7 linked regions of the Homo sapiens genome follow. The protein of the gene in region 3 purifies or fractionates together with the protein of the main gene of each other region. This does not show direct contact. Each region holds a gene or a part of one and is shown on either strand. Other genes may lie near its edges.

Evidence for each region.
Region 1: the proteins of KLRD1 (region 3) and TGFBR1 purify together in Homo sapiens (affinity purification with mass spectrometry; one large-scale study listed by BioGRID and IntAct). This does not show direct contact.
Region 2: the proteins of KLRD1 (region 3) and CYB5D2 purify together in Homo sapiens (affinity purification with mass spectrometry; one large-scale study listed by BioGRID and IntAct). This does not show direct contact.
Region 4: the proteins of KLRD1 (region 3) and PLXNA1 purify together in Homo sapiens (affinity purification with mass spectrometry; one large-scale study listed by BioGRID and IntAct). This does not show direct contact.
Region 5: the proteins of KLRD1 (region 3) and IMPA2 purify together in Homo sapiens (affinity purification with mass spectrometry; one large-scale study listed by BioGRID and IntAct). This does not show direct contact.
Region 6: the proteins of KLRD1 (region 3) and SLC7A11 purify together in Homo sapiens (affinity purification with mass spectrometry; one large-scale study listed by BioGRID and IntAct). This does not show direct contact.
Region 7: the proteins of KLRD1 (region 3) and ACAD10 purify together in Homo sapiens (affinity purification with mass spectrometry; one large-scale study listed by BioGRID and IntAct). This does not show direct contact.

The regions. Positions count from the first base shown.
Region 1 is NC_000009.12:99,142,924-99,146,612, reverse strand, and holds part of TGFBR1 (TGF-beta receptor type-1 isoform 1 precursor), read right to left. Parts: intron 1,882-3,689; coding exon 1,725-1,881; intron 1,117-1,724; exon of another isoform or gene 1,001-1,116; intron 129-1,000; coding exon 4-128; intron 1-3. UniProt on the Homo sapiens protein: Transmembrane serine/threonine kinase forming with the TGF-beta type II serine/threonine kinase receptor, TGFBR2, the non-promiscuous receptor for the TGF-beta cytokines TGFB1, TGFB2 and TGFB3.
Region 2 is NC_000017.11:4,145,757-4,150,542, forward strand, and holds part of CYB5D2 (neuferricin isoform 1 precursor), read left to right. Parts: exon of another isoform or gene 1-103; coding exon of another isoform or gene 104-311; intron 312-4,134; coding exon 4,135-4,275; intron 4,276-4,786. UniProt on the Homo sapiens protein: Heme-binding protein which promotes neuronal but not astrocyte differentiation.
Region 3 is NC_000012.12:10,326,985-10,330,890, reverse strand, and holds the end of KLRD1 (natural killer cells antigen CD94), read right to left. Parts: 3' UTR 1,283-3,906; downstream 1-1,282. UniProt on the Homo sapiens protein: Immune receptor involved in self-nonself discrimination.
Region 4 is NC_000003.12:126,988,946-126,993,731, reverse strand, and holds part of PLXNA1 (plexin-A1 precursor), read right to left. Parts: coding exon 3,945-4,786; intron 2,349-3,944; coding exon 2,166-2,348; intron 1-2,165. UniProt on the Homo sapiens protein: Coreceptor for SEMA3A, SEMA3C, SEMA3F and SEMA6D. Necessary for signaling by class 3 semaphorins and subsequent remodeling of the cytoskeleton. Plays a role in axon guidance, invasive growth and cell migration.
Region 5 is NC_000018.10:12,001,254-12,006,039, forward strand, and holds part of IMPA2 (inositol monophosphatase 2), read left to right. Parts: intron 1-4,786. UniProt on the Homo sapiens protein: Phosphatase that can use myo-inositol monophosphates, myo-inositol 1,4-diphosphate, scyllo-inositol-1,4-diphosphate, glucose-1-phosphate, beta-glycerophosphate and 2'-AMP as substrates in vitro.
Region 6 is NC_000004.12:138,231,535-138,236,320, forward strand, and holds part of SLC7A11 (cystine/glutamate transporter), read right to left. Parts: intron 849-4,786; coding exon 733-848; intron 1-732. UniProt on the Homo sapiens protein: Heterodimer with SLC3A2, that functions as an antiporter by mediating the exchange of extracellular anionic L-cystine and intracellular L-glutamate across the cellular plasma membrane.
Region 7 is NC_000012.12:111,751,345-111,755,403, reverse strand, and holds part of ACAD10 (acyl-CoA dehydrogenase family member 10), read right to left. Parts: intron 1,633-4,059; coding exon 1,489-1,632; intron 1-1,488.

The sequences.
Region 1 (3,689 bases), on a different chromosome or scaffold from region 3:
TACCACCAATGGAACATCGTCGAGCAATTTCCCAGAATACTAAGCCCATTGCATAGATGTCAGCACGTTTGAAGGATTCAAAATGTTTCATATTTATGGAATCATCGAGAACTTCAGGGGCCATGTACCTAAAAAAAATTTGCAAAAAGAACTTTGAAAATCATCCCCTTACTGCCATATTTGGATGAACCTCCTTTCAGACATTTCTTTATACATAGACATATGTACACAATATTACATAACAAATATTAGACTCAAGAAAAATATTAAATATCCACACTGGTTTGCACATTAATGATGTCAACTAAATCCCACAAAATGCTAAAATAGCAGTTTCACACTATCTGCCTCATGATCTTGGTTTCCAATGAAAGACATACATAACAATTGTGACTGTTAAAGGTGTCCTAATGTACACCACCTATACACGTACTAGGTAGAAACCATGCATTTTAATTTAGAAGTCTTCTCACTGAGGATGAAAGGAAGGGCACGAATATACTCCAGGGAAAAAAATAATAGATACAAAAGAATGCCAGTCCTCATACTGAAGCTTCAAAAACCTACCAAAATTATGGGTCAGGACCCACAGAGACCTACAGCAACCACTGACAAGGACCCCTTAGCTGGTTGAGAATTGAGAGTCATCTACGGCCATACCACCCTAAACACGCCCGATCTCGTCTGATCTTGGAAGCTAAGCAGGGTCGGGCCTGCTTAGTACTTGGATGGGAAAATTGAGAGTCCCCAGGGAATCCAGAAATCTCAAAATTATACATGCAATTTGAATAGACTAATGCTGCTGGCTCTCCAGCTGTCTCCAAGGCCAAGACAGTAGTTTGAAAAAATGCTGTGACAGCTTGTGATAAGGGGTTTGGGTCAGAAATGCCCAGGTTCAAATCTCAGCTCTTCGGCTTATCATCCACATGAAGCTGGCCATATTATTTAACCTCCTCAAGGTGGTTTCCTCATCTGTGAATTAAAGGGTAATAACACCTACCTAATTAAGTTCTTTTGAAGACTCATGGACTCAACAAATATCTACTGAGGATCTACCATGTATTAGGCACTGTGATGGATGCTGGGAATACAAGGCTGCTCTCAAGCAGCTTGCACCTAATAGAATATATAGGCAAATAAATAAACAGTTACAACATAACGCATAAGTGCCTCAACGGTCCCAGTTCAGTGTGCTATGACAGTCCCTGGCAGGGACTCCTAAGATTTTTGAGGACTAGAAAAAACTTCCTACGGGAAAGGTGGGTATGAGGCTGAGAAACAGTAGGGTAAAGTATGCTCCAGGAGACAGCATGTGCAAAAGTTCTAAGAAAGCAAGAAAGGCATATTTTTAGGAACTGAAATATGAAAATAGCAGGGCTAGCTACTGCACAGTATTTGAGAAGGGATTAAATGAGGTAATATACGTAAAAGACCTATTAGACGATTGGCACATAGTAGGTGCCCTATAAACGTTAGTTACTACTGTTATTATAATTAACATGCCTAATGATATTTTCTGGAAGGGCAACCTTTCATCAGCAGGCATCTTTTTAAGTCAGGTAACTCTGGCTTCAGAGCAGGCAAGACCATGAGATCTTCTTACCTGTTGGCAATCTAATAAAGTGCAAGTTTAAGCTGAGTTTCAGCAATGATATGTATATATGAAAGAGAAGGGAAAAAAGGTGATTTCAGAAGATATTAAATATAGTTGTTCAAAAGTATACCTTTTTGTTCCCACTCTGTGGTTTGGAGCAATATCAATGGTATCTGTGGCTGAATCATGTCTTACTGCCAGTCCTAAGTCTGCAATACAGCAAGTTCCATTCTTCTTTACCAAGATATTCTTTGATTTCAAATCTCTATGAGCAATGGCTGGCTTTCCTAAAGAATCAAAAATTAAACATGACTGCTTAAAAGGTAATACCAATCACAACTCACATCTTTAGGTTCAAAAGTCTCTTCTCCCAACCCAAATTATCAAAGCATTTCAGCCCACATGACCTACAATACTTACGGCATTATTAAACTCAAGTGAATCACTACACCAAAAGTCACTGAATTTATATTTCTTTAAAGAAAATGTGGACAATAACATGCTTTAAAAGATGAACAACTCAAAGACTGGGGCAAAAAAAAAGTTATCAGTTTATCTGTTGGTGCCTTATGAATTCTTTTTAAGAAACTTAGCCATAGACTGATATTCCAGCAGCCCAGGAACCAAGCATGTAGAACATCACTTCCCTATCAACTGCAATGTACTCAGTATTAAGTATATTATCTTTGATGCTAACCACTAGAAAATGTTATTAAAAAATAATAATTATAATGTGGAAAACCTGGAACCTTCATACACTGCTGGCAGGAATGTAAAATGGTTCAGGCACTTTAAGAAAATAGTATGGCAGTTCTTCAAACCATTAAATAGAGTTATCATATGATACAGTAATTCAACTCCTAGGTATATACCCAAGATAACTGAAAACATGAAACTACATACAACTTGTACACAAATGTTCACTGCAGCATTAGCTACAATGGCCAAAAGAAACAAACCAAATGTCCATCAACGAACGGATATATGACATATGCCATATCCATACACTGAAGTATTACTTAGCCATCAAAATGACTGAAGTACTCATACGTGCTACAACATAAATGAACCTTGAAAACATGCTAAGTGAAAGAAGCCAGTCACAAAAGACCACATATTGTATGATTCATTTATATAAAATGTGCAGAATAAGCAAATCTACAGACAAAAAGGAGCAGTTGTTGCCTAGGGCTAAGGAGTTTGGGAGGAAAGGGGAGTGACTGCTAGTGGCTACAGGGTTTCTCTTTGGAGTGAAGATATTCTAAAATTGACTGTAGTGTTTGCTGGCTGTACAACTCTGAGTATTCTAAAAACCACTGAATTTTACACTTTAAGTGGGTGAACTTTATGATGTGAATTATAACTCAATAAAACTGTTACAATCAATAATAATAATAACTACAAAGATGGAGCTAAGATGTGAACTAGCACTTATGCTGTATGTAAAGTGGGGAGTGGGGGAGCCATTGGGTTGCAAGTGGACAACTGCTAGAGCAGAGAGATATACTGGCATCTGAAATCCCACATGCACAAAAACTACAGCATACAAATGTCATAACTAAAACTTAGTATTTAATTTTTCAACTGTAAAACTATCTCATGCAGTCTCCTTATCTCAAGGTCAAATATAATTATTAGATGGCCAGATAACAGTTACCTAGCATGTTGATGTTTACAAAGCACTTTCACATTTCATTTGATACTACACATAAAAATATATTCAGTTGGACCTGAATTCTGAAACTGAGATCCTCAAAAATCATAAGATTGAATGCTACTTTTAAGAACTCAAAAAAAATCACAGTTTTGTTACAACGACTAGAGAATCTCTAAACAAATTTCCAGATTCCTAGCTCTACCTGAAATTTTGAACTGAAAGATAAAATGTTCTCATCTAAAAAATTTGTTTTAAATATCTCCAGTTAGGCCACCTACTGTTTTTGTTTTTGTTTTTTTTTCTGAGACAGGGTCTCTCTCTATTACTCAGCTGGGAGTGCAGTGGCATGATGTCTGCTCACTGCAGCTTCGACCTCCCAGGCTCAGGTAATCCTCCTACCTCAGCCCCCTGAGTAGCTGGGACTACAGGTGCATGCCA
Region 2 (4,786 bases), on a different chromosome or scaffold from region 3:
AATTCACGTGATGTAAAGTCCTTTTAACGTATACAATTCAGTGGGGTTTTTTGTTGTTTAGAGACAGGGTCTGCCTCTGTCACCCAGGCTGGCGTGCAGTGGCATGATCTTGGCTCACTGCAACCTCCGCCTCCCAAGCTCAAGCAATCCTTCCACTTCAGCCTCCCAAGTAGCGGGGACCATAGGTGTGCACCATCACGTGCAGCTAATTTTTGTATTTTTTGTAGAGATGGGTTTTCGCCATGTTGGCCAGGCCGGTCTTGAACTCCTGAGCTCAAGTGATTCAGCCGCTGAAAGTGTTGGGATTACAGGTGTGAGCCACTGCCCCCAACCTTTTTATTTATTTATTTTTATTTTTCGAGATAAACTGGTTCTTTAGCCCAGGCTGGAGTGCGGTGGCGCAATCTTGGCTTACTGCAACCTCTGCCTCCCGGGTTCAATATTCTTGTGCCCCAGCCTCCCGAGGAGCTAGGATTACAGGCGTGTGCCACCATGTCTGGCTAATTTTTTTTATTTTTAATAGAGATGGGGTTTTGCCATGTTGGCCAGGCTGGACAGGAAATCCTGGCCTCATGTGATCCACCTGCCTAGGTCTCACACAGTGCTGGGATTATAGGTATGAGCCAAAATTCAGTGTTTTTTTTGTTTTTTTGAGATGGAGTCTCACTCTGTCGCCCAGGCTAGAGTGCAGTGGCGCAATCTTGGCTCACTGCAAGCTCCGCCTCCTGAGTTCATGCCATTTTCCTGCCTCAGCCTCCCGAGTAGCTGGGACTACAGGCGTCCACCACCACACCTGGCTAAGTTTTTGTATTTTTAGTAGAGACGGGGTTTCACTGTGTTAGCCAGGATGGTCTCGATCTCCTGACCTCGTGATCTGCCTACCTCAGCCTCCCAAAGTGCTGGGATTACAGGCCTGAGCCACCGCGCCTGGCCCGGTGGGTTTTTTTTTTTAGTATAGCCAGAAATTTGTAAAAATGTCACCACTAACTCTAGAACATTCTTCTCACCCCAGAAAGAAACTTCTTATCTATTAGCAGTCACTCCTTATTCCTTCCTTTGCCAACCACTATCTACTTTCTTTTCCTGTCGATTGGCCTATTGTGGGCATTTCATGGAGTCATACGTGTGGCCTTTTGTGTCTGGCTTCTTTCACCTAGCATCATGTTTTAAGGGTTCATCCATGGTGTACCAGCATGTAGCAGTGCATTATTCCTTTATGGCTGAAAATATTCTATAGATACTATAATTCTAATAATATGGATATACCACATTTTATCTATCAGTTGATGGATTTTTGGTTTCTTTCTACTTTTTTTGCCTGTTATAAATAATGCCACTATGTACATTCATGTACAAATGTTTGTGTGAGCTGGGCACAGTGGTCCATGCCCGTAGTCTCAGCTACTTGGGAGTTGGAGACAGAAGAATCCCTTGAACCGAGGAGGCAGAGGTTGCAGTGAGCCAAGATCGCACCACTGCACTCCAGCCTGGGCGATACAGCGAGACTCTATCTCAAAAAAGAAAAAAACTATGTATTTAATTCGTTTGATATTTACTGGGAATTTACTAAAGATCAGGCACTGTACCAGACACTGGGGAATCCATAGTAAATGAGTTTGGTGTGTTGTCTTACCTGATAAAACTTACTAGTAGAAAAGACAGACATTAAATAGATATTAAATAGATATTACACAATTAATGTATTATTTTTGTGAAAAGTGTTAAAAGGAAAAGTACTGGTGTTACCAGAGGCTGTAACCGATTTGAAGAGGAGGAGAGGAAGGGAGCAAAGTGAACAATAAAGAACGTGGCAGTGGCCAGGTGTGGTGGCTCACGCCTGTAATCCCAGCACTTTGGGAGGCCAAGGTGGGCCGATCACCTGAGTTTGGGAGTTCGAAACCAGCCTGACTAACATGGAGAAACCCCATCTCTACTAAAAATACAAAATTAGCCGGGCATGGTGGCGCATGCCTGTAATCCCAGCTACTCAGGAGACTGAGGCAGGAGAATTGCTTGAACCTGGGAGGCAGAGGTTGCGGTGAGCCGAGATTGTGCCATTGCACTCCAGCCTGGGCAACAAGAGCGAAACTCTGTCTCAAAAACAAACAAACAGAAATTTGGCAAGGCAGCGTTGGTGGCAGCTGGTGCAGGACAATGAATGACGTGTTAAGGAATTTGGACATTCTCATAGAACAGAGGGAAGCCTCTGAGGATTCTTTGGCAGGAGAATGATGTGATCAGTTTGTGTTTAAAGTATCAGTTGAGTGTGGTATGAAGAGCAGATTGGTGGGGCAAGAATGAATGCAGGGAGGGCTTCCTTGAGGTTTGCTGTAGGAGTTCAGGTGAGAAAGGATGGCAGCCTGGGCTTGCTTAGATGTGGGTGGAGACAGGCAGACTGACACAAGAACACTGCTTAGGCAGAAAATAACAGGACTTGGAGACTGGATGTGAGGGATGAAGGAAGTGTTAGGAACTGCAGGCTGGGCATGGTGGCTCACGCCTCTAATGCCAGCACTTTGGGAGGGCAGGGCGGGAACGTTACCTCAGGTCAGGAGTTCGAGACCAGCCTGGCCAACGTGGCAAAACCCCGTCTCTGCTAAAAATACAAAAATTAGCTGGACGTGGTGGCGGGCACCTGTAGTCCCAGCTACTCAGGAGGCTGAGGCAGGAGAATGGCTTGAACCCGGGAGGTAGAGGTTGCATTGAGCTGAGATTGCGCCATTGCACTCCAGCCTGGGCAACAGAGCGAGACTCAGTCTCAAAAAAAAAAAAAAAAAAAAATGGGGAACTGCATTCCCCAGGCTGGATGCGGTGGCTCACACCTGTAATCCCGGCACTTTCGGAGGCCAAGGTGGGTGGATCACCGGAGGTCAGGAGTTCCACACCAGCCTGGCCCATCTCTACTAAAAATACAAAAATTAGCCAGGCATGTTGGTGCGCATCTGTAGTCCCAGCTACTCGGGAGGCTGAGGCAGGCAAATCGCTTGAACCCGTGAGGCAGAGGATGCAGTGAGACAAGATTGTGCCTTTGCATTCCAGCCTGGGCGACGAGCAAAATTCCGTCTCATGCACAAAAAAAAAGAACTGCATTCCTGGATTGAGCAACTGGTTGGCATTTACTGAGACAGGCAATACTGGAGTAGATACAGGTTTCCTGGCTGTGAGGGTGCTGATAATCACTATTTCAATGTGGACTTTTTTTTTTTTTTTAAGAGAGATGGGGTCTCACCCTGTCACGCAGGCTGGAGTGCAGTGGCATGGTCATAGCTCAAACCCCTGGGCTCAAGCAGTCCTCCTTATTCAGCTTCTTGAGGAGCTGGGATTATGAGCATTAGCCACCACGCCCAGCCAGTGTGAACATTTTGATCTTGTGATATCTGTAAGACGTCTAAGTGTTGTTGGATATACAGGTGTGAGCCTTGGGAGACATCTGAGCTAAAGATACAGATGTGGCTATCTTTGCCTGTAGGTGGGCTTTGAAACCACAGGTGTGGATGAGATTGTCAAGTGTGAGGGTGTGGACAGTAATTGACCCCTAAGGCTGGTAGACAGTGAGGAGCTGGAGAAGTAGGAGGAAAATCAGGCCAAGGGAAGTGGTCAGCTGTGTTAAAGTTTGCCGAAGGTAAAAGAAAGAATATGACCAATGCCAAAGAGATGTGTGTCCAAGGTCTAGGAGCATCTTTCACAGAGGAGGTGGTGGGGACCCCATTTCCCTGGGGATAAGGAGTAGGGCTTGTCAAGAGACGTTTCTCAGAAAGCAGTTTCTGGCCAGGCGTGGTGGCTCACACCTATAATCCCAGCACTTTGGGAGGCCAAGGTGGGCGGATCACCTGAGGTCAGGACAAGCCTGGCCACCATGGTGAAACCCCATCTCTACTAAAAAAATACAAAAATTAGCCAGGCGTGGTGGCGGGCGCCTGTAATCCCCGCTACTCTGGAGGCTGAAGCAGGAGAATGGCTTGAAAGCGGAAGGCAGAGGTTGCAGTGAGCTGAAATCATGCCACTGCACTCCAGCCTGGGCAACAGAGTGCGACTCCGTCTCAAAAAAAAAAGAAAAAGAAAGAAAACAGATTCTTGAGTGGGGATGGTGTCAGTGGTTTACACCTGGGTCTGATGGAAACATCTCTGTTCCAGGCCGAGACGCATCCAGAGCTTTCGTGACCGGGGACTGTTCTGAAGCAGGCCTCGTGGATGACGTATCCGACCTGTCAGCCGCTGAGATGCTGACACTTCACAATTGGCTTTCATTCTATGAGAAGAATTATGTGTGTGTTGGTAAGTCGTCCATAGGTCATACATTTCATTTGGTTGTCTGCAGTGTTTTTAGGGGGCTGAGATTTTTTAGGGATTGGGTTCAAGCTTAAAATCTGAAAAACAGCCATGGATTTGTTTTACTTTAAATTCTGGTCGTTAGAATAGGGATGAGCCGCCCAGAAGGAGATGGATGGGCACCTGCTTCCCCCACTCTTAGTCTTGGGAGAGGATTACTAAGCTGCTTGCTTTGGCCTCAGTTTCGCCATAGCCAGTGGTTGCTTGCACCATCCTTGAACAACCAGCTCCAGAAGGGCAGCTTCCCTGTCTCACTGTGTTCGATGCATCTGGCTTCAGCACACAGCCAGAAGGGCTTGAAGCCTGAATTTGTGTTTCGACAAATCCCCTTTTATTTGGTCCTCTAGGAGGAGACAAACTTCGTGAGTGAGCTGTCTCCCAGGTGGTAGTTATGCTAATCAAACCACTGTGTAGGTTACTGCACTTGCTACTTACTGATGCTACATAAGGGACTTGC
Region 3 (3,906 bases):
ATAGCTAGAAACACTTCTAAGAATATATTTAAGAAAACCTCAGTTGGCGAGTAGAAAATATCAGAAAGCCTACTTAGTACTATATGGGATTGTGTTATCATAGCTCATACAGGATGTTTGGTGGCGTTGTGTACAGTGGTATTTGTTCTCTCCATCATGAGGTAACTCCAGCCACAATTTTTTCCATTTACGCATGGTAATGTTTTGTCCATTTAAGATGCAATTAAATTTCATTGTATTGTATTCCAGTTTAGAAATACAGCAAATGTTTTTATATATACATTAAATTTAAAATATATACATATACATACACATAAATTATAAATATGTATCTTATTTTTATATATTTAAATTATAAAATAAATGGTGGAGTAAAATTAGCAAGATGACAGAGTGGGAAGCCCTGGTCTCTTTTCTCTCTACAAATGCACCAATTCAACTAAAAATTCATAGACAAATTTTCTTTGTGGGAAATTAAGAAACTAGTTGAGATGCTCCAATGCTGTTGGTGAAACTACTCATGTTGAAGCCTTAGGGAAATCTAAGGTACACTCCTTCCCTAATTCCTGCCCCCAGCACAGTGCCAAAAAACCAGGGAGAAACTCCCCTGCTCCCAGCTTTGCTCTTGGTTAATAAATGATGGATGGCATGTCCAATTCCCCAATTTTTCCAGGGGCTACTCCTAAGACTGGCTTCTCTCTAGCCTGTCTCAGTGTACTGATAGAACCAAGCATAGCCTGGCTGCGTGGGACCAGCAAGAACATAGATGGTGGGGTGAGCTGGCAGTTTCAACCACTCCTTGGATCAAGATGGAGTGAGTGGACCAAAACCTTTAACTCTCAGCTTCTCCTTGGGGGAAAAAGTTGAACTAAACAACTGATAATCCATATTTTCTGGAGATTGCCTGAGGAGCTAGCTTTATTCCTGTTTATCTCAGAGCACTGACAGGACCTGGGATATTCTAGATGCCTGGAATCTACCAAGAAAAAAAGAAAGCCAGTTGGACTAGCATGAAGGTTGAAGAAGACTGCAAAAATCCTTCGCCAAATAATAACTAAAAGACAACAAAAAATGCCTTTACTGATATTATAAAAAATAGACTTTAAGTCAAAAATTGTCACAAGAAAAAAAGAAGGATATTACATAATGATAAAGGCGTCAATTCACATTGGAGGATACAATAATTTTAAATATATATGCACCCAACATCAGAGTATCTAAAGGTATAAAGCAAACATTGACTGAACTTAAGGGAGAAATAGATAGCAATACAATAACAGTAGGAGATTTCAGTGCTCACTTTTAATAATGGATAGAACAACCAAACATAAAGGCAACAAAGACCCAGATGACCTGATCAACACTGCAAGTCAAGTCACCTACAGACATGTGCAGAACATTCCATCCAACAGCAGCAGAGTATACATTCTTCTCAAGTGCACATGGATCATTCTGCAGGATAGATCATATGTTAGGTCATAAAAGAAGTCTTAAGAAAATTAAGAAAATTGAAGTCATATCAAGTATCTTTTACAGCATCAAGGGAATGAAACTAGAAATCAGTTGCAAAAGGAAAACTAATAAATATGTGATAATTTAACAATACATTTTTGAACAACCAATCTGCAAAGAATAAATCAAAAGGGAAATTTAAAAACACATTAGAATAAATGAAAACAAAAATAAAGTCTAACAAAACTTATGGGATGTAGTAAAAGTAGGGCTAAAAGAAAAGTTTATAGTGATGAATATCTGCATTAAGAAAAAAGAAAGGTCTCAAACAATGCACTTTATACCTTGATATGGTTTGGCTGTGTCCCCACCCAAATCTCATCTTGAATTGTAGCTCCCATAATTCCCCCATGTTGGTGGAGGGACCCAGTGGGAGATAATTGAATCATGGGGGTGGTTTCCCCCATACTGTTCTCATGGTAGTGAATCAGTCTTATGAAATCAGATGGTTTTATAAGGGGAAACCCCCTTTGGCTTGGCTTTCATTCTCTCTTGTCTGCCGCCATGTGAGACATGTGTTTTACCTTCTGCCATGATAGTGAGGCCTCCCCAGCCACGTGGAACTGTGAGTCCATTAAACCTCTTTTTCTTTACAAATTACCCAGTCTCTCAGTTAAGTCTTTATCAACAGTGTGAAAATGGACTAATACATATCCCAAGCAACTAGAAATGTAGAAAAGAACAAACAAAGTTCAAATTTAGAAGAATAAAGAAAATAATAAAGATTAGTTCAGAAATAAAATAGTGAATGGAAAGGATATATAAAAAGTAAACAAAACTAAGAGTTAGTTTTTGGAAAATATAAATAACTTGACAAACCTTTAGCTAGACTAAGAAAAAGAAGAGAGGCCTTAAATAAATGAAATCAGAAATAAGACATTGCAACTGATGCCACAGAAATATAAAAGATGGTAAGAGACAACTAAGAACAATTATAGGCCAACAAATTGGATAACCTAGAAGAAATGAAAAAATTCACAAAGACAAGGACCTACCAAGACTGAATTATGAAGAAATAGAAAATATGAGCGTATCTATAACTAGAATGAAGATTGAATCAGTAATCAAGAAACTTACAACAAAAAAATTCCCAGGACAAGATGGCTCTTCTGGTGAAGCCACCAAATATTTAAGGAGAAATTAATGGCCATCTTTCCCAAGCTATTATATAAAAATTTAAAAAGAATAAATACTTTCAAACTAATTTTATGTGGCCAGCATTACCATTACACCAAAGCTTGTCAAAGATACCACAAGAAAACTATAAGCCAATATGTCTAGTAAACGTAGATGCAAAAATCCTCAACAAAGTAGTAGCAAAATTAATTCAACAGTACACTAAAAGGAGTATATGCCATAAGCAAGTGGCATTTATCCCTGGGGTGCAAGGATAGCCTAACATACAAAATCAATTAATGTAATATACCACATTAATAGAATGAAGGATAAATGTCACCTGTGCATCTCAATAGATTCAGAAAAAAAGTTTTCACAAAATTTAATACCCATTTTATGATGATAACTCCTGCCAACCTAGAATTTGAGAAAAATATTTCAACATTTTGAAGGCCCTATATGTAAAGTGCATAGCTAATATCATGCTATGGAAAAAGCTGAACTTTTCCTCTGACATCAGAAACATGGCAAGGATGTTTGCACTTGCCATTTCTATTTAACCCTTGTCCTACTTAAAGCTCTTAGGCAAGGAAAAGAAATTAACAACATACAGATTGTAAAAGAAGAAGTACAATGGTCCCTGTTTGCCTATGGCATGCTCTAAAGAATCCACAAAAAAGCCTCCTAAAACCAAGTAAAGTTGCAGGGTACAAAATCAACATGCAAAAATCCTCCTATATTCATTTATTAAAAGACTTCATATAGTTAAAATATTTGTATTTCACAATGTGATCTGCAGATTTAGTGCAATACCTATCAAGACCTCAATGGCATTTTAGAATTAGGAAAACAATGATACTAAAATATACATGGAACCACAAAAAGCCCTGAATAGCCAAACAAATCTTGAGCAAGAAACAGAAGGCCAGAGGCCTCAAACTTCCTGATATCAAAATATATTACAAAGCTACAATAATTGAAACAATATGGCACTGGCATAAAGATGAACATATAGACCAATTAAACAGATTGGAGAACTTGGGAATAAACTTTGCAAATATGGTTAAACGGTCTTTGGGTGGCAGGACTATTTAAGGGGAAATGACAGTTTCTTCAACAAACAGTGACGGGAAAAATGAACATCCATATTGCAAAGAAATTGCTTATCTTACACCATATGCAAAAATAAATTTCAAATGGATTAAAAGCCTAAATGTAAGTACTGAAAATGTAAAGCCCTTCAAAGAAAACATAGAGGAAAACCTTTTGACATTGGTT
Region 4 (4,786 bases), on a different chromosome or scaffold from region 3:
CCCGACTGCAGACTCTGCCAGGCCAGCAACCCCTGGGCACAGCTGACCCCAGATGCTCCCAAAGGGTGCCACTCACACATGGCCCACGGCACCCAGCCCAGACTTGTTTGGGGGTGGAGGGAGGCGGTACCCAGGTTGGGTGCTGGGAGGCAGGTATGGGCACCTAGAGCCTCTGAGGAGAACTTGGGGCTCTGAGGGGTGGGGGCCCGGCCAGGGTCACCAGGAAGGAACTAGCCATGTCAGGCCATGAGGACGCAGCCTCCACCTTCCCAGCTGCACCATCCAGCAGCTGCCCACAAAGCCAGGCTCAAGGAGGCACCTGGCCCAGGGAGCAGAGGACAGGCTCCACCCATACCTGCCTCCCTGAGAACGGTCCTCCTTGGGACTAGGGGTGGGAAGGGGAAAATTGGGAGAAGGAATGGGGGCAGGAAGAAGGGGAAGAGTTGGTAGAATCTCAACCCAGAAGCAGCCTCTTCCCATAGATGGGCCCAAGCCCAACTCTGCAGTTCCCTGTTCTGTACCTCAGTTTCCCTCTGTGGGACTGGGGTGAGGAGGCAGGGGAGACAGGCCAACTGGCACCCAGAGGAACAGCTGTGTCCTGCTGCTCCCTCAGCAAAGCTCTGACCCAAACGGTGCCCCTGGGGCACAAGAGGGTGAGTGCTGGGCAGCAGGAACAGGGTAGGGCTAGAGGAACCTGGTCACTGGCTGGGTAACAGGCTCTGGGGCGCCCCACAAAATGTCTCTAAGCTGCTGCACTGGGCTTCCACACAAGCACGGTCCTCTGTCTGGCAAAACCCACTCCAACACCCACCCCATGCGCTCGAGAGCCCTGTGTGCCTTCCAGTGTGAGGAGAGGGAGTGCAGGCTGAGAGGACGGGAGGGGCCTCGCACCAGAGCCACAGGGCGGTACCCCACATGGGGGCCAAGAGGGAAGTCACAGCAGAGGACCCAACTCAGGGGTCACAGGACTTTCCCCATCAGCTTCAGCCTCATAGCCACTATGAGCAGAACCAGCAGGACCCCAGGGCACCCCCACCCTGGGGGGCCTACAATCAGCAGCTGGGCCCCCACGGGCCCCAAGACCACCAGCACCCCCCGCCCCCAGCCCAGAGCCTGAACATCTGGCTTATTTCACAGAGGGAAGCTGAGGCTGCAGGGGATCCCCTCCCAGAGATCACAGAGCCAGGGAGGGGCAGGACTCCCCACCACTCCCAGGGCAACTACCATGGCAGAGATGGGAGGCCCCCTTCCTAACACTGGGCACCGGGCTGAGAGCTGCAAGCCCTGGCCAGCCCCCGGCCCAGCCCCACTCGCGGGCACACATGGGCTCAGGGGAGCTGCATCGGCACCAGCCTCTGGTGCCGGTTATGCACCCCAGGACCCACCACTGCCCACTGGGCCTCTGGGGTGTCCAAGTATCCCCACCCTTCAGTCTCTCCGGGAGCTTCCTCCACACCAGGCCAGCCTGGTGCCCACCCCAGCCCAGGCAGCTCCCCTCCACCCACACCCTCCAGGAAGCTCTGCACTGCCTCTGTCCAGCCCACTGTTCTGGGGAAGGAAAGGAGAACCCTGAAGACCAGACAGCCATCCCTGTAGCACCTAGCCCTCCCCCTGCCACCGTGGGGCCAGCCCAGGGCTGTGTGCTGGAGCTCCTCAAGCACCAGCCAAAGACAGGCAGGGGCACTACCCTTGCCCTGCCCTTGGCCCAGTAGAGGGGCTGGGGAGAGGCAGGGCCAAGGCCTCTGGCCCGGCAGAGTGCTGAGGCAGCAGACACTGGATCTCCTGGCTGGGGAGCAGGGCCCAGAGGGGAGGGGGCCGCGCAGGCCTGCCCTCACCACCCACACACAGCAGCCTCCCCAGGAGGTCAAGTGCCCTTGGAGAGCCAGCCCCCGCCTCAGCATCCCTGGGCCCCTGCACAGGCTCCTGCGTGGTCTCAAAGTGTCCTTGCTTAGTGGGCCTGGGGCCAGTCATGGGCAGAGGCACAGAGGGGAGTGGGGCCCTTCAAGGTCACTGGGCCTAGTGTAGGGCAACATTCCCCCTGCCCCCTGTACGCCAGATCTAGCCTCCCACAGCATACAGCAGCACTGGGCCTGCCACCTGGGACGGCCGCAAGCCTTTGTTCCTGCCCCAAGCCCCCTCCTCACCCCACCCCACCCAGGCCTGACCTTGCGGATGCGGCCACTTCGCGTGCCGGCGAATACCACAGTGCGGCCCCGATAGTCATAGGCAGCCACGGCGGTCAGGCCATCATCCTTGTCCACGAACAGGGGCGTCCCCTCAATGGTGACTGTGCCCCCCAGGGGCTGGTTGAAGTCCTGCCCGCAGAAGTCGTCATCGATCTGCAGGGGCTGTGGGAAGGGGCAGGGTGAGAGCCACTCCCCGGGCACCTTCTCCCGGAGGACTGGGCCTCCCTGGGCAGGGCTGGGAGTGCAGTTGTCTTTCTAGAGAGGTTGGGGGTAGCCCCCAGAGGAGAGGTGCAGACAGAGAGGGTTTAAGACAGGAGGGAGCAGATCACACCTGAAAGGCAGAGGGCGGGCTCCCAGCTAAGAGCACGAGAAAGCAATCAATAGCTTGAGGTTCCGGAGCAGCTGGGGGCCAGTGTGGAGGGGGCGCTGCTCCACCGCCAGGCCTAAGGAGAGGGCAGGGCAGGCAGGGAAGGGATGTGGGGAGAAGTGGGGCAGATGGTCCTTGTCTGCAGAGGGTTCATTGGCAGGGGCCAGGCTGCTCAGGAGGAAGGAGCAGGGGAGGCTGGGCCAGGGCTAGGCCACATGGAATGAACAGGTGGGAGGGGGCAGTGGGGACTGTCCCCAGGGATGAAAGAGCAGGCCCCAGCCTTGGGGCAGGGCACAAAGAGAGAGTGTGGTGGGGCTTCACCCAGGCTCTGCCCCTACAAGCCTCAGTGTCTCCATCTGTATGGTGCAGAGAAAACACGTTCCTTGAAAAGCCAAGGGGAGGGTGGACAACCGCATCTGCCAAGCACACATGGGCCCTGCCTCACACAGGCAGTGAGCGTGAGACGGAAGGACTGAGGGGCCCTTGCAGTCCCACTCTGCCCTGAGGACAAAACCAGCAACACCCTCAGGTCAGACATGGGAGACTACAGCCAGAGAGGGCGAGGCCTTCCCCTGCGATGGCCAGCGACCCCCAGCAGCAAGCCCAGAAGGCCTGGCCTCGGGGGTCCCAGGTCTGGGCCGAGTCCCAGCCCCTTCACTTTCCACCCTAAGCAAGGCCCGTGCCCTCTGAGCCTGCCCAGGAGTGTGAACAAGACACTCCCTGAAAGGCAGCGAGATAGAGGCCCCACCCCAGCTGTGCCTTCTGATGGGTGCTGGGGGCTGTGGCTCCCTGCAGTCAGGGTCACTTTCTCTGCAAGTTGTTAACTGTGGCCTGCACCAGGACACCATCAGCTCCCATTGCTGGGCAAAAGCAGAGGCCCAGCGGGCAGGTGCCACCAGGGTCATGTGGGGGACACAAGCGCTCCATGGAAATGGTGTCTGGGCTCACCTGATAGGCTCTGGCACCAGCCTCTCACTTGCTGTGTGACCCAGGGCAAGTTACCCCACCTCTCTGATCCTATAACCTCATTTGTAGGATGGGGACAAGATGGAGCAGGCAAGCACCAGGTGTAGGACCAGGCATGTGGCTGGCACTCTGTCCAGTGTCCCACAGGGGCTGTGGACTATGCCAGCAGGGCCTCGTCACCCCATCTTCTGAGGCACAAGACAGCATCATGGCTGGGAGCAGCCTTTGGGGCTAGCACCCTGGGTCCAAACCCACTCTCTGGGGGATGGAAAAGGGCAGCCCCACCTAGCTGAGCCATGGGGATGGCCAAGCCAAAAGCCAGGCCAGGCACACAGCAGGCACCACTGGGCGTGCATCTGACACCGATGCCGTCGTCCCTGGAGGGGATGGGGCCGCGGGAGGAGGGGCGCCCCTGCCCAACTCACCGAGTTGATGCAGCCCAGCTCCTTGTTGAGCAGCCACGGCAGGGAGAGCTTGCCCTCACCACGGTAGCAGGACTGGATGCGCTCCTTAATCTTCTCCTTGATGGCCCTGAGCGTGAACAGGCACAGTGCTGACTCCTTTGGTGGCTTCACGCGGTTCTTCTGGCCCTGGGCGAACACAGTGAACAGCACGTCCTCGTCCTCAGCCAGGCCCAGCTGGTGGGCCAGGGCACGGCCGGGCCGGCTCAGGTAGGCATCCTGCACCAGGCGGTACTCCACACCCGCCTGCTCGCAGCCAATGGGGAACTCAACGTACGAGTAGAATTTGGGGTCGTCCACACAGAGCCGCACGATCTTGGACGTGAAGAAGTGCTCGCCGGCGGCATCAGGCGAGGTCAGCTGTGTGTCTAGCTGCAGCGTGAGGTAGTAGACAAACTGCTCGCTGCGGAAGCTGTACACATAGTAGATGTCAAAGGCCGGGAACTTGGACAGCGTGTCCGAAGGGATCTTGAGCTGTGATGACACAAACTCATCCTGGTACACGAAGCCGAACATGTCGGCATCCTCCTCGTTGGCCATGAGCCGACGGCTGGACAGTGTGGGGAAGTACTCGGACTTGCCATCGATGGGTGTGCCCACGAAGAGCTTGGCCTGGCCCTGGCCCGGTGGCCCGGCAATGAGCACGCCCGCCATGCTGCCTGCCTCCTGCACGCTGGACAGGTAGTGCTCCTTACGGTGGTGTGGCTCACCCAGTTTGAAGAGATCGTCCAGACGCAGGAACTGGCAGATGCCCTGGGAGGCGCTGCCACAGGCCAGCAGGCGGTTAGCGGCATAGTCCAGCAGCA
Region 5 (4,786 bases), on a different chromosome or scaffold from region 3:
TTAATCAAAGGGCAATAGCAAAAGAATTTATCATATGGATTCTTTGAGAGGAAGCATGCTGCAGTAACGAGCCGGCTGTTTCCAGGTCCTTTATTAACCATATTGGCCTAGAGGTTTCTGCGGTGATGATCCGTGTGGCCGTGGCATGGGAGGGCTGGCTCATCTGCGTGGGGTCTGGTAAAGGCTTGGAGGAGATGCAGGATCAGGCACAGTGAAGTTATTGGGGCTGTGATGTGTTTCAGTCAGGTCACTTGGACAAACTGCACTCTGAGATTGCACGCAACCCACTGTTGGGTTAATGTGTGCAGTTGGTTCCATTTGTAAAAGGTAAATTTAGATACTCGCTGTTGTGTACACAAGGTAAAAGTTAATGTATTATGGGGTGAGCACAGGTACCTCCCTCCACCCTTGAGGCCTTAGGGTTGCCAGGGACCGCCAGACTCCAGAGTTCCTTGGGAAAACCATGATGCAGAGCAGGGGATTATAGGTAGGGTGAGACAGGCTTACCTGGGAGCGTGCCCGGGCTGAACACCAGCCTCCATCTCTGAAAAGGCCCCCTGGTAGGGTCAGACCCACACACCTGTCCAGGAATCAGTGATTGAAATCTGGGGTTCCCAAGCTCTAGCCCACAAGTCAGTGGACTGTGGCTGCACCACGGACAGCCCCAGTCTGTGTGTCACCCCCATCTTCCCTAGCTCTGAGGGTGAATGTGTGGACACGGTGAAAGCAGCTGTTCTCTTCTCTGCTCAGTGTGCCTCAAAAATTGACATCAAATGCAGTTGTTTTTCAACATATTTATGTGAAGTGAGTTTTTTTTGCCAATGACTAAGATTAAAAAGAAAGTAAATTTTGGGGATTTAATTGTATTTTAGATCATAGAAAAGTTGATAAATTTGTGATGAGAGAAAATTGTATACATATTGTAAAATAGGACATTGTGATTTTTTTCTGCTTTCTAAGTATTTAAATATATCCCTTAAACAATATATTTAATTTGAAGTTGCCTCTCATCCTCCTTTAGGAAAGACTTTTATTCTGAGCTTTTCTCTTTCCTTGATTTTAGTCTTTCATGAAATGATATTAAAAATAGACTTAATAACATTTTTTTAAAAACCTGATACAGGCTCCCCAGTTTTATTATTTTATTTCACTCATCCATGAAATCCAAAGGTTTGCTCCTTGACCTGGAAGACAGGTGTAGACTGAATCAAAGAATGATAAGGTTTAAACTTCCTTCTGGTGGGGTGCAGTGGCTCATGTCTGTAATACTAGCACTTCAGGAGCCCAAGGTCAGAGGATTGCTTGAGCCCAGGAGTTTGAGACCAGCCTGGGCAACATGGTGAATCCCCATCTCTACAAAAAAATTAAAAAATCAGCTGGGCATGCTGGTGCACGCTTATGCTCCCAGCTACTTGGAAGGCTGAGGTGAGAGGCTCGCTTGAGTCCTGGAGGTCGAGTTGTGATGCTGCCACTGCAGTCTAGCCTGGGTGACAGAGCAAGACCTTGTCTCAAAAAAAAAAAAAAAAAATGTAGATTAAAAGGAACCCTTGCAGACTGTTGGTGAGAATGTAAATTGATGCAGCCGCTATGAAAAACCCCACTGCACTGCAGCCTGGGCAACAGAGTGAGACCCTGCCTCAAAACAAAAAAATAAATAGGCTGGGCGCGGTGGTTTACACCTGTAATCCCTGCACTTTGGGAGGCCGAGGCGGGTGGATCACCTGAGGTCAGGAGTTCGAGACCAGCCTGGCCAACATGGTGAAACCCCCATCTCTACTAAAAATACAAAAAATTAGCTGGGCATGGTAGTGCGTGCCTGTAATCCCAGCTACTCAGGAGGCTGAGGCAGGAGAATCGCTTGAACCTGGGAGGTGGAGGTTACAGTGAGCTGAGATCACGCCACTGCACTCCAGCCTGGGGAACAAGAGCAAAACTCTGTCTCAAAAAATAAAAAATAAATAAATAAAATTGCTTCTGTCACTGGCCCTAGCAGCTTTGGCAAATCTCACCACTTAGGGCCTCGAACTCCTCACCTGTGAATGAGGGACCTGACCATGGTCATCCCTGAAGTCCCAGCATTTAACTCGTAACATGACAAAAAGCAAACCAGGGCTGGGCACAGAGGCTCACACCTGTAATCCCAGCACTTTCAGAGGCCGAGGTGGGTGGATAGCTTGAGATCAGGAGTTCGAGACCAGCTTGGCCAATATGATGAAACCCCGTCTCTACTAAAAATAGGAAAACAAATTAGCTGGGCCATGGTGGCGCATGCCTGTAGTCCCAGCTACTTGGAAGGTTGAGACAGGAGAATCGCTTGAACCTGGGAAGTGGAGGTTGCAGTGAGCTGAGATTGCACCATTGCACTCCAGCCTGGGCATCTCAGTGAGACTCCATCTTAAAAAAAAAAAAAAGAAAAGGAAAAAAAAAAAAAAAGGCAGCATGGTAAGGCCGGGTTTTTATAGATTGGGTCTTTGGAGTGTGCTGTTGGCCTTGGCCACATAGCTGTCTCCTGCCATGCCCTGGCTTTGTGGGGCGCCTAAACCTGTTTTCAGATGATGATTTTGAGTGAGATACAAGTGTAGCTACTTGGAAAAGATTCAGTAGCATCCCTGAGCTATAGTGATAGAAACCCCGTCCTTGTCCCTTCTGTGGAGCAGCCTGTTGGAGCTTCTCTGGGTTGGCCTAGGCCCAGAGATGAGGTCAGCAGCTCAAGGGTCTAGTGTTTTTAGCTGTCTTCCCAGCCCTGCTCCAGAGCCCCCATGTAACCTGCTGCCCTGCAGTGCCCAGCACAGAGCAGTGTCTGTTGAATGCGTGAGTCAAGCAAAACATCAAACAGAATCCTTGACATGGGAAAAACATGCTCCCAGCCACCACCAGCTGAACATTGACATCCAGCTGCTTTCCCACTGGGCAGTGGCTTGTGAAGATGGGGACAGAGTATCATAAATCATCTCCTTTGTGGACAGCAGGGATGATCCTGACCTTCTTGTCACAGACTAAACAGACTAAGTAGCCAGAAGAAAAAAAAAGAAAGAAAGAAAAAAGGGGCTTAAAGGCACTCAGCTGTCAAAATTATAAGGAGGGTTTGTTAAAACTATTTTTTAAAAAAGAAAAGTGGTTAAGTTATGCAGTAGGATATAATATTCTATAATAACTTATTACCAAACTTTTAGCCTTAATCCAGTTGCTATTTTCCTCTTGTCTATTGGATAGACGTATGGAATGTTCTTTTTTTCCCTAAATTTAGTCATGTGCATTTTTTTTCCTATTTATATTGTGGGTTTTTTTTTTTTTTGAGATGGAGTCTTGCTCTGTAGCCCAGACTGGAGTGCAGTGGTGCAATCTCTGCTCACTGCAACCTCCGCCTCCCGGGTTCAAGCGATTCTCCTGCCTTCCAAGTATCTGGGATTACAGGCATGCACCACTATGTCTGGGTAATTTTCATATTTTTAGTAGAGACGGGGTTTCACCATGTTGGCCAGTCTGGTCTTGAACTCCTGACCTCAAGTGATCCACCCACCTCAGCCTCCCAAAGTGCTGGGATTACAGGCGTGAGCCACCGTGCCCTGCCTATATTGTGGATTCTATGTAGATGTTCCAGTGGCTTTTAGGAAGGTCTTTATGATTTCACACATCTGTCTACAGTCATGTCTGCAGAGCAGACTCTCCCCACTCCCTCTGCAGACAGCTGTAAAACATTGTCTTTCATCTCACAGGTATTAGCTTCCTACATGAGTAAAATCAGGTTTAAGTGAATAAAAATTGTGCATCTCTTCCCATGTACCAGGGAAGTATTTTTGGTGCCTCCAAAGACCGAGCACGGTTCACGCCTCTGCTGGCCTTCACACCGCTGCAGCCACACAGTGCAGAAGCCTGCTCCCTGCTGCCCACAAGCATGAGGCAGGTGGGAAGGGGGATGCTCGTGCCACCTTGTAGGCGGGCAGGCAGTCTCATGGGCAGAGGTGTACACAAGGTGGGTGATGAGGAAGACAGCTCTAGGGTATGAATGATCAGCTGCTGAAAAACATCCAGTGCTCAGTGTGGGTACTTAGAGTTATTCTCATAAAAAATGTGAGGCAGAGTTAGTCAGGTGTGGTGATGCATGCCTGTGGTCCCAGCTACTCAGGAGGCTGAGGCAGGAGGATTGCTTGAGCCCAGTGGTTTGTGGCTTCAGTGAGCCATGATTGTGCCACTGCACTCCAGCCTGGCTGACAAAGCGAGACCATGTCTCCAAGAAAAAAAAAAAAAATTTCTAAAAGTACTTGCTGGGTTACACTAAATGAAACCTAAAAAACAAATAGATAAATAATAAAGGTTACACACAGCAGAAGCTTTGTTAACAAATTAACTTATATTAATAGTTGCTGCTGGGAAAACAAGCTGCTTGGTGACTTCCCTAAAGGGTGTCCCACGCATCTGGCGAATGAACAGACAGAGCTCCTGCTCCCGAGTGTCCTGGGAGGCACGTGGGCATGCCGCGTGGGTGGTCTGGGTGCTGCAGCGTGAGTTGTCCTGGGTGTGGAGTGTCAGTGCCTGCAGACCCACACTGCCTCCTCCTTCAGGGCTCACTGGCAGTTTTCTTTCCACCGCTTCAGTTTCCTACTTGAAGTCAGGTTTAAAAAGGAGAAGAATTGCACATTCCTCCTCAGTTTCTTAGAAACTTACCTTTGTGCCTGAGTCATTTCTAGTCCCTCTGGACCTGAGTCATATCTGTTCGCTGCTTTGTCAACCTTGTGCCCAGTTTAAGCTTTCGTAGTTGCTCCTTGTATGTGTGTTTTCAGGGTGT
Region 6 (4,786 bases), on a different chromosome or scaffold from region 3:
AGACAGTGATTCAAATGGCACCTAGAATTAAGTTATCCTTTCCCATATTTAAGGATTTGGTACCTGGCATCTTTTGGGGAATTAGAGTCATATATGGCTTCATATCACTCATGCAATTTTGTACATGTTCTTCTTTTTGTTTCTTTTTTTAATCAATGAATATTTGTGCCCATTGATAAAAGATGAACAACTTCTTAATTTGGAGACCATAAAGAAATCTAGTTAGAAAATACTACTAATAATCAATCTTAAAAGAAAATTCTTTTCATGACCAACAACAGGCAGCTGACATTATAACACTGGGAGTGACAGCTGCTAACACTACAAAATGTATAAGTACAACTTAAACACCCACTACATAAAGGTAACTCCATGATTACACATGAGATATAATTCAATATATAGCTAATTTCCAATTCAAGTAGTCTCTAAAATAATTGGGGTTTTCTCTTTAAAAGTCTTGTTCATGTATAATAGACTTAATATTTTACTAGTAAGGTGATTTTTACTATTTAAAAAGATTAGCCATCATATCTATTGACCAAATACAAAACTGGCATGGAATACAGTATTGGATCCCACTCCAAATCCTTCCAGTAGAAATTTGGAACTGTAAGCAAAAAGAACATGATGTGAGAGGCAATCCCGCAATGCAAAAAGTCTAAAGACACTTTGTCTTCAATCATTTTTGTGTTGTTTTTCCTTTTTCACATATATAGCTATAATACTCACTTATGCCCACAGCTGTAATGAGCTTGATCGCAAGTTCAGGGATTTCACATTGAATAAAAAATGGTTCCAGAATGTAGCGTCCAAATGCCAGGGATATCACAGCAGTAGCTGCAGGGCTAAAAAAAAATGTATATATTTAGGTTAACCACAGGGGAAAAAACTGCATTTTCATTAATTTTTTCTACCTTGAGTGTATTTAGCATATGGAACATGTTAAATATGAAAGTCCATAGTTTTCAGAATTCCGTACTTGATTAGGTTGCCATAGACATTCCAAATGAAGTACTTCCTGTAACACTGGTGGCTAGATTTTAAACTTCACATATTCTTGGGAACAAGGGTAAGTACTATCAACTTTTCCCCTGCTCTCCCATATTTGACTTTTCCTTAAAAATCTGGTTTATTACATGAGATCTTGACAGAGCTAGGCTTACAGGAAGCCATCTTCTTTCTCAAAAAGTCAGTAAGTAAACTTCAGCCATATTATGAATTAATTAATGCCATACAGATCTAATGTGTCAGGGCATAGTCAAAAGAATGAACACAACACTCAACCTAAAAAATTAGTATTAAGTGTTCCCTGCAAATACATGCCTAAATATTTGACATTGTTTTATTTTTTCTGTACAGACAAAAACTCAAAGTCAAGTGATTATTCTTAATCCTATAGTAACATTCAGATATAAAATATAAATTTAAAAATAATAGATTTATTATAATCTGATACAATTAAGAAAATATAAATGAGACAAGAATATGAAATAAATTCAGGTATATAGAAATATAGGTAATACATCTTTCTATTTTAATTCTTCAAATATTTTTATGAGAAAATTGCACAGACCTTTTCATTTTAGATGTATGTATATATGAATGCATATTTTTTCCATAAACATGCAAGTCTGTGCAATTATCTAATTTCTTTTTTTTTTTTTTGAAATGGAGTCTCACTCTGTCCCCCAGGCTGGAGTGTAGTGGCACGATCTCAGCTCACTGCAACCTCCGCCTCCCGTGTTCAAGCAATTCTCCTGCCTCAGCCTCCTGAGTAGCTGGGATTACAGGTGCATGCCACCATGCCTGGCTAATTTTTTGTATTTTTAATAGAGACAGGGTCTCACCATATTGGTCAGGCTGGTCTCGAACTTCTGACCTGATGATCCACCTGCCTCGGCCTCCCAAACTGCTGGGATTACAGGCGTGAGCCACCGTGCCCGGCAGCAATTATCTAATTTCTTATGCCAAACTTCCTTTTTAGCTTCTCTTTCTTCTCGTGGTTACCCAACATTCATGCCCGATCCATAGATTATCAGAAAACCAACCAGCATTACATGTTCCCAACTTTGGCCGGCTGATACTGGAGAGCGGCATAAGGTTTTTCATTTTCTTCTTTTCCTAGACACCCTCCCATCTTCCCCAAACAAAACTGTTTATCCTATTCTCCATCATTTATACAATTTTTTATGTATAATTTAAAATCTGATTATGTCATTTTAGTGCTTTCAAAATATGTTCAGGATATGCAAAAAGCCTTCACATTGCATTCAAGGCTCCATCTGGTCTAAGCTCTCCCTACTTCTTCAGTTAGCTTCTTCCCACTAGAAGGATATGAATCTTCTCTGCCTGCAGCCTCTGCAACTAATTGACTATGTTTTATACTTCAGATCTTAGTTCAATTTTCCTTTCCCAGGGGAAAACTTCTCCAACCTATGACTGGGCCAGATCTCTTGGAGTATATTCATACTGAAGCCCTTGGCCTGTCTTCCACAGTGCTTATCACAATAGCAATTTTATATTTACCTATGTGATTTCTCGATTGATAATGATTTCCTCCCACTTGACTCTGAGCTCTAAGGGTACAAAATCATATCTATCTTAATCACAGTTTTACCTCCAGTGTTTAGAACAGTGTCTATCATATAGTGGAAACCCAATATATATTGAATATATAGTGCACACGCAAATTCGGTTTAATGACCCCTGCTGTGTACAGATAGATAATATTTCTGTCCTTGAAATCTGTGTTTTACAGATTATTTCTGGCAATACTAACTTAATCTAAAGGTATAATTTTAATGGGAAGTACTTAGGAACTATGGGTATTAGTAAAAGAAGAGAAATATTTACATACTTAGATATTTTGTCCCTCCTCATGTCATTTGTTATTCTGCCTATTTAAAAGGCCAACTCAGCAATATGAGTATGTTATGACAAAGAGATATATGAACATATTTTAAAAGCTTCTAGAATACAAAGGTACTTTCCTCTGTCAACAGACACACACACACAGAGAAAAGTAGTTTTTTTTTTTAAATTAAAGTAACATTTGATTATCCGCTACCTGGGAGCAGAAATTGTGGCTGATTTCATTTTAGATCTCTTTTTATTGCCATTTACCATTCAGTAGCAGTTTGTGGAATAAATAAATTAATATATGAATATTTTATCTGTGCTACTGTAAGATATAAGCTATATTTATATGGAATGATCATGTTCATCATAATGCTAAGCAATGAGCCAAAGTTACACAACTAATACATGGCTGAAGACGGAGTCAAGTCCAACTGTATTAAGCTCCAAAGCCCGCCAGCCTGACAGGCCAGCAGTCAATAAGTAGTACATGCATTTGAATGCTGAGTATGTTGTACACAATATATTGTAACTTTAAACTTTCAATTACTTATTCAAAAATAATTTAATATATGCCAAAAAAAGGGCACTGACCTAAGTAGTATATGGGTTACAAAAAGATCTTATCTTTGTATGCTTGAAATGTTGGCAGTTTTAAAAGGGAAACAAAATATAGACACCTAAAATATTAAGGAAGAATAGAAGGTATCATGCTCAATGCCAAATGTGAAGCAGAGATAGAATTTTCAGAAGAATTTAGAGATGAAAGAAATAACATAAATTAGAATAAACAGGAAATTAATTGTGGGAAAGAAAGGATTTAAGATGACCTTTGAAGAGCAGATAAGATTGAGATAACCAAAAGGAATAGAAGTGCATTCCTGATAGAGGAATTTCAGGAAAGGAAAAAAATACTTATTATTATTTCATTATAACAATTTTAAATAATGCAGAGTGTTTAAAATGAAAAAGCCTTCATGAAGCATATACTACTTTGAAGATCTTTTTTTGGTTAAAAAAAAAAAGACTTCTAACACTGTAAAACTCATGATTAGTGTTGTCAATACTTACTAGCACTGTATTTGGCACTTAGCCATAAAAGCTCACATGAACTCTCAATCACATATGTTTGATAAGTTTGATAAGAGCAAGTTTCCCTAGTAATATCCATTAAATTCTGTAATCAGACTGTGCACATCACATTTTATCAAAGTAGTTAGCCTTAAGGAACTGTGATACTCTGAAATGCTCATATGACATCATAAGCTTCCCACAAAGTCGAAGGAAATTTGCTATTCAGAGTGACTTAGCACTATTCAGTGTGATTTTAAACCAAGACAAGCAGGAATGTAAACACATTGTTACAACAATAAAATCAAAAAAGACTTTTGGAACTGTAGTTCCTAATCTGTTTAATATAAGGAAATGAGTCATTTGACTCTGTCATGCAAACTCTGTTTTTTATGAAGTATAAGACTTGGTGACCAACTAAGTTGTGAGGCACAGAAGTGTCTTGGTCACAATGACTAAGTAAAGTTAAATGCCTTAATGATATAATCTACAATAAGAGAAAACTTCAATATTTAATTTGGTCTAGTTGGTCAAAAGGTATCCAGGTGAATTTTCATGTTCATATTCTTTCAAGTAAGCATCTTTCTCCTGGAAGTGTCAAAGAGAATAGCTGAGGGTCAAAGAAAGGTAGATATTTCTAAAAGTTTGGCATTGCTGGTGAACTGCTTGTCAGTGATAAAATTGCATTAAAAATATCTTAATTCAGAAAGGTACTTTATCACAGGCTTTATATCCTGAGGTAGACATGTTTATCATGTAGTCACATGACATGCATGTGTCTAACCAGTTAAAAATAATCAAGGTGATTCATAAGAATGAATTGGTTTATTTTTTCTTAATTCTTTCTACTATGCTC
Region 7 (4,059 bases), about 100 Mb from region 3:
CCAGGCGCGGTGGTTCAGGCCTGTGATTCCAGCACTTTGGGAGGCCGAGGCGGGCAGATCACCTGAGGTCAGGAGTTTGAGACCAACCTGGCCAACATATAGTGAAACCCAGTCTCTACTAAAAAATACAAAAATTAGCTGGGCGTGATGGTGCACACCTGTAGTCCCAGCTACTTGGGAAACTGAGGCAAGAGAGCTGCTTGAACCCGGGAGGCGGAGGTTGCAGTGAGCCAAGATTGTGCCACTCTACTCCAGCCTGGGCCACCGAGTGAGACTCTGTCTCTCAAAAACAAAACGAAAAACTAAACCACAAAAAAGACCCGAAGGCAGAAAGCCTGGAAGAATGATCAGATTCCCAGCAAGAAGTCAAACACCACCGTCCAAAACAGAGGCCCCAAGGTCTCGCTGATGTGAGCTGGGTGAGGCTGCCCCTGCCTGGTGTACGGCTTGACAGCACCCAGGGATGAAGGGCGCCATGTTGGCAACTATTATCTTATGTCACAAGATGCGAAGCAAGTGCTGGCAGAATGTGGCTGTCTTCCCAGATGACGGGGAACACAGCCAGCACACACTGAAGGGATAAGGGGAGGGTCCTGTGCTTTGCTCAGGGTCACGGCCAGCTCTGCCTCCAAGCAGCAGTGGACCAAGGCCACTCAGGGCTCTGGGAAACCGAGCTACAGTGATCTGCCCTGGGGCAGGGTGTTCAAGGGAGACACCCAGCAGCCTCCACCATATCTAGCACGCCAGCGTCAAAGAACCAGGAACTGTGAGCATGAGCATGGGTTGGTCCCTGATGGTTGAGGGTCTTGGGTGGGGTTGGAGGCTGCCCCACAGAAAGCTGGACAAAGCAAGGTCAACATGGCATTGTGCTTGGTCATCACAGGCACTTAGAAAGAGCCTTAGTTAGCCTGGGCAACATGGTGAGAGCCGGTCTCTACAAAAAATAAAGAATTAGCTGGGCATGGAGGTTTGCGCCTGGAGTCCCAGCTACTTGGGAGGCTGAGGCTTCAGTGAGCCATGATGTACCACTGCATTCTAGCCTGGCTACAGAGCAAGGCCCTGTCTCAAAAAATAAATAAATAAAAGGTTAAAAAGAGCCTTAGTGAATGACTAATGTCACACTTGAAAATAAGCTTCTATTTTTGTTAATTCAATATTCAGATGAAGGCCAGCAGAGGGTCCCTTTTCCCTGCCTTACTCTTAGGTTGCCCAACACCTCCACCAATGGCCCTGGGAGTCCAGGGCCACCCAGGGGCCCTGTGGCCCCATCAGACCCACTGCCTTGGACTAAGCAGCTCACCAGGTCAGTAAAACACAAAGGCCAGTCCTCTCTTCTTGTGCCTTTCCAATTTTTGAAAAACTGCCCAAACAGCTCCAAGTAGAGGTGAAATAAAGTTTCTAATGTCAAGAAGCCAGGCTCTCATGCTTTGCTGAGTGAGGAGGAAGAATCTCTGCCTCTGGGAGGCCCCCTCGTGCCCCTGCCCCTACCTTGTTTCCTGCCAGGTCCATGAGGTGGGCAGCTCTCAGCACCAGCAGCCGTGCCTGCTCAATCTCCACGCGCGACTGCGCGATGTCCGCCAGCACTGTGCCCTGCTCCACCAGGGGCTTCCCAAAAGCCAAGCGGGACTTCACCTGTCGACACAGGAGATGTGCGGCTGAGGACATGCTGGGCTGGGGGTGGCCACGAGAGGCGGGGGCTGGTGGCCTGCAGAGCTGGGTGGAAGCAGACAGGACAGGGCAGGGGAGGAGAGTGAAACCAGGACTGTGCATCTTCTCAGCCAAGGTGCCTGTGTGCAGCCATGCGCCATGTCCAGGGAGTAGGTCTGACACACAACCTTCACGTGTGCCACAGCCAGCCACAGCCCACAGGGTGCCTGTAACAAATTGCTTCCAAGAACCCTTTATTCCAGCCATTGCACATCTGGGCAGGCCTGGCTACCAGACAGGAGCAGTTATAGATCTGAGCCAGCATCTGACCCAAGGCTACTCCTGGGAATGAGGGAGTGACTGCAGGCACTGCACACGGCGCAGGCGAAGGGTGCCCTCTGCTGACCGCAGCACCCCTTCCTGCCCTGCAGCTCCAATGGGAGCAAGGTCCCCTCAGCCCCGTCTCGCTCCCGGCCTTCCGCCGTGGGTGGCCTTATCTGCAAGGGGGATTTTAAATTCTGAAAGTCACAAGGCATCAGAAAAGGTTCTAAGTATTCCTTTTTTTTTCTTGTTTTATTTATTCTTTTTCCTTCTTTTTTTTATTATTTTTTTGGAGACGGGGTCTCACTTTGTTGCGCAGGCTGGAGTGCAGTGGCGTGATCTTGGCTCACTGCAACCTCCGCCTCCCGGGCTCAAGCAATCTTCCTACCTCAGCCACCTGAGTAGCTGGGACCACAGGCAAGAACCACCACATCTAGCTAACTTTCCAATTTTTTGTAGAGACAGGGTCTCACTACATTGCCCAGACTGGTCTCAAACTCTTAGACTCAGGCAATCCTCCTGCCTTGGTCTCCCCAAGTGTTGGGATTACAGGCATGAACCACCACACCCAGCCTAGTTTTTTTTTTTTTTTTTCACTAAAAACAATCTACACAAATAATTTATCTCATGGCAGAAAAACTACCTGTTTTCAGAACAAAAAAAGAGAAGACAGTAAGAGCACCTAGAATCCCACCATCTAGTCACCACTAGTTAATATTTGGTGGATATTCTCCTCTATCCTTCTATAGTTTTTTTATATATACTTATTTTTTCCAAAAACGGGAGCCACACTCTATATATGGTTTTGTAGCCTTTTTGTTTGTTTGAGACAGAGTTTCGCTTTTGTTGCCCAGGCTGGAGTGCAGTGGCGCGATCTCGGCTCACTGCAACCTCTGCCTCCCGGGGTTCAAGTGATTCTCCTGCTTCAGCCTCCCAAGTAGCTGAGATTACAGGTGCCTGCCACCACACCTGGCTAATTTTTGTATTTTTTTAATAGAGATGGGGTGTTTCATAATTTTGGCCTGACTGGTCTTGAACTCCTGACCTCAGGTGATCTGCCTGCCTTGGCCTCTCAAAGTGCTGGGATTACAGGCATGAACCACAGCACCCGGCCAGCCTGCTTAAAACAATAACAACAACAACAACAACAACAACAAAACATTATTTTGCATCAAAGCTAACAGCCTGTTTTTGTTTGTTTTTTTTTTTCCCAGACAGGGTGTTGCTCTGTTACCCAGGCTGCAGTGCAATGGCACACTCACAGGTCGCTGCAGCCTCGACCTCCCAGGCTCAGGAGATCCTCCCACCTCAGCCTCCTGAGTAGCTAGGACTATAAATGTGTGCCACCACACCTGGCTACTTTTTTTTTTTTTTTTTGAGACAGAGTATCGCTCTTGTTGCCCAGGCTGGAGTGCAATGGTGCGATCTCGGCTCACCGCAACCTCCACCTCCCGGGTTCAGGCGATTCTCCTGCCTCAGCCTCCCAAGTAGCTGGGATTACAGGCATGCGCCACCACGTCCAACTAATTTTATATTTTTAGTAGAGACAGGGTTTCTCTATGTTGGTCAGGCTGGACTCGAACTCCCGACCTCAGGTGATCTGCCCACCTCGGCCTCCCAAAGTGCTGGAATTACAGGTATGAGCCACCACACCCAGCCCCACCTGGCTACTATTTTTAATTTTTTAATTTTAATTTTTTTTTTTGAGATGGAGTCTTGCTTTGTCACTCCGGCTAGAGTGCAGTGGTGCAATCTCAGCTCAGTGCAACCTCCGCCTCCTGGATTCAAGTGATCCTCCTGCCTCAGCCTCCCAAGTAGCTGGGATTACAGGCATGTGCCACCATGCCCAGCTAACTTCTGTATTTTTAGTAGAGACGGGGTATCACCATGTTGGCGAGGCTGGTCTTAAACTCCTAACCTGAAGTGATCCGCCCACCTCAGCCTCCCAAAGTGCTGAGATTACAGGCGTTAGCCACCGCGCCCAGCCTTATTTTTTATAGAGATGAGGTTTTGCCGTATTGCCCAGGCTAGTTTCAAATTCCTGGGCTCAAGCAATCTGCCTGCCTCGGCCTCTCAGAGTGCTGGGAGTGT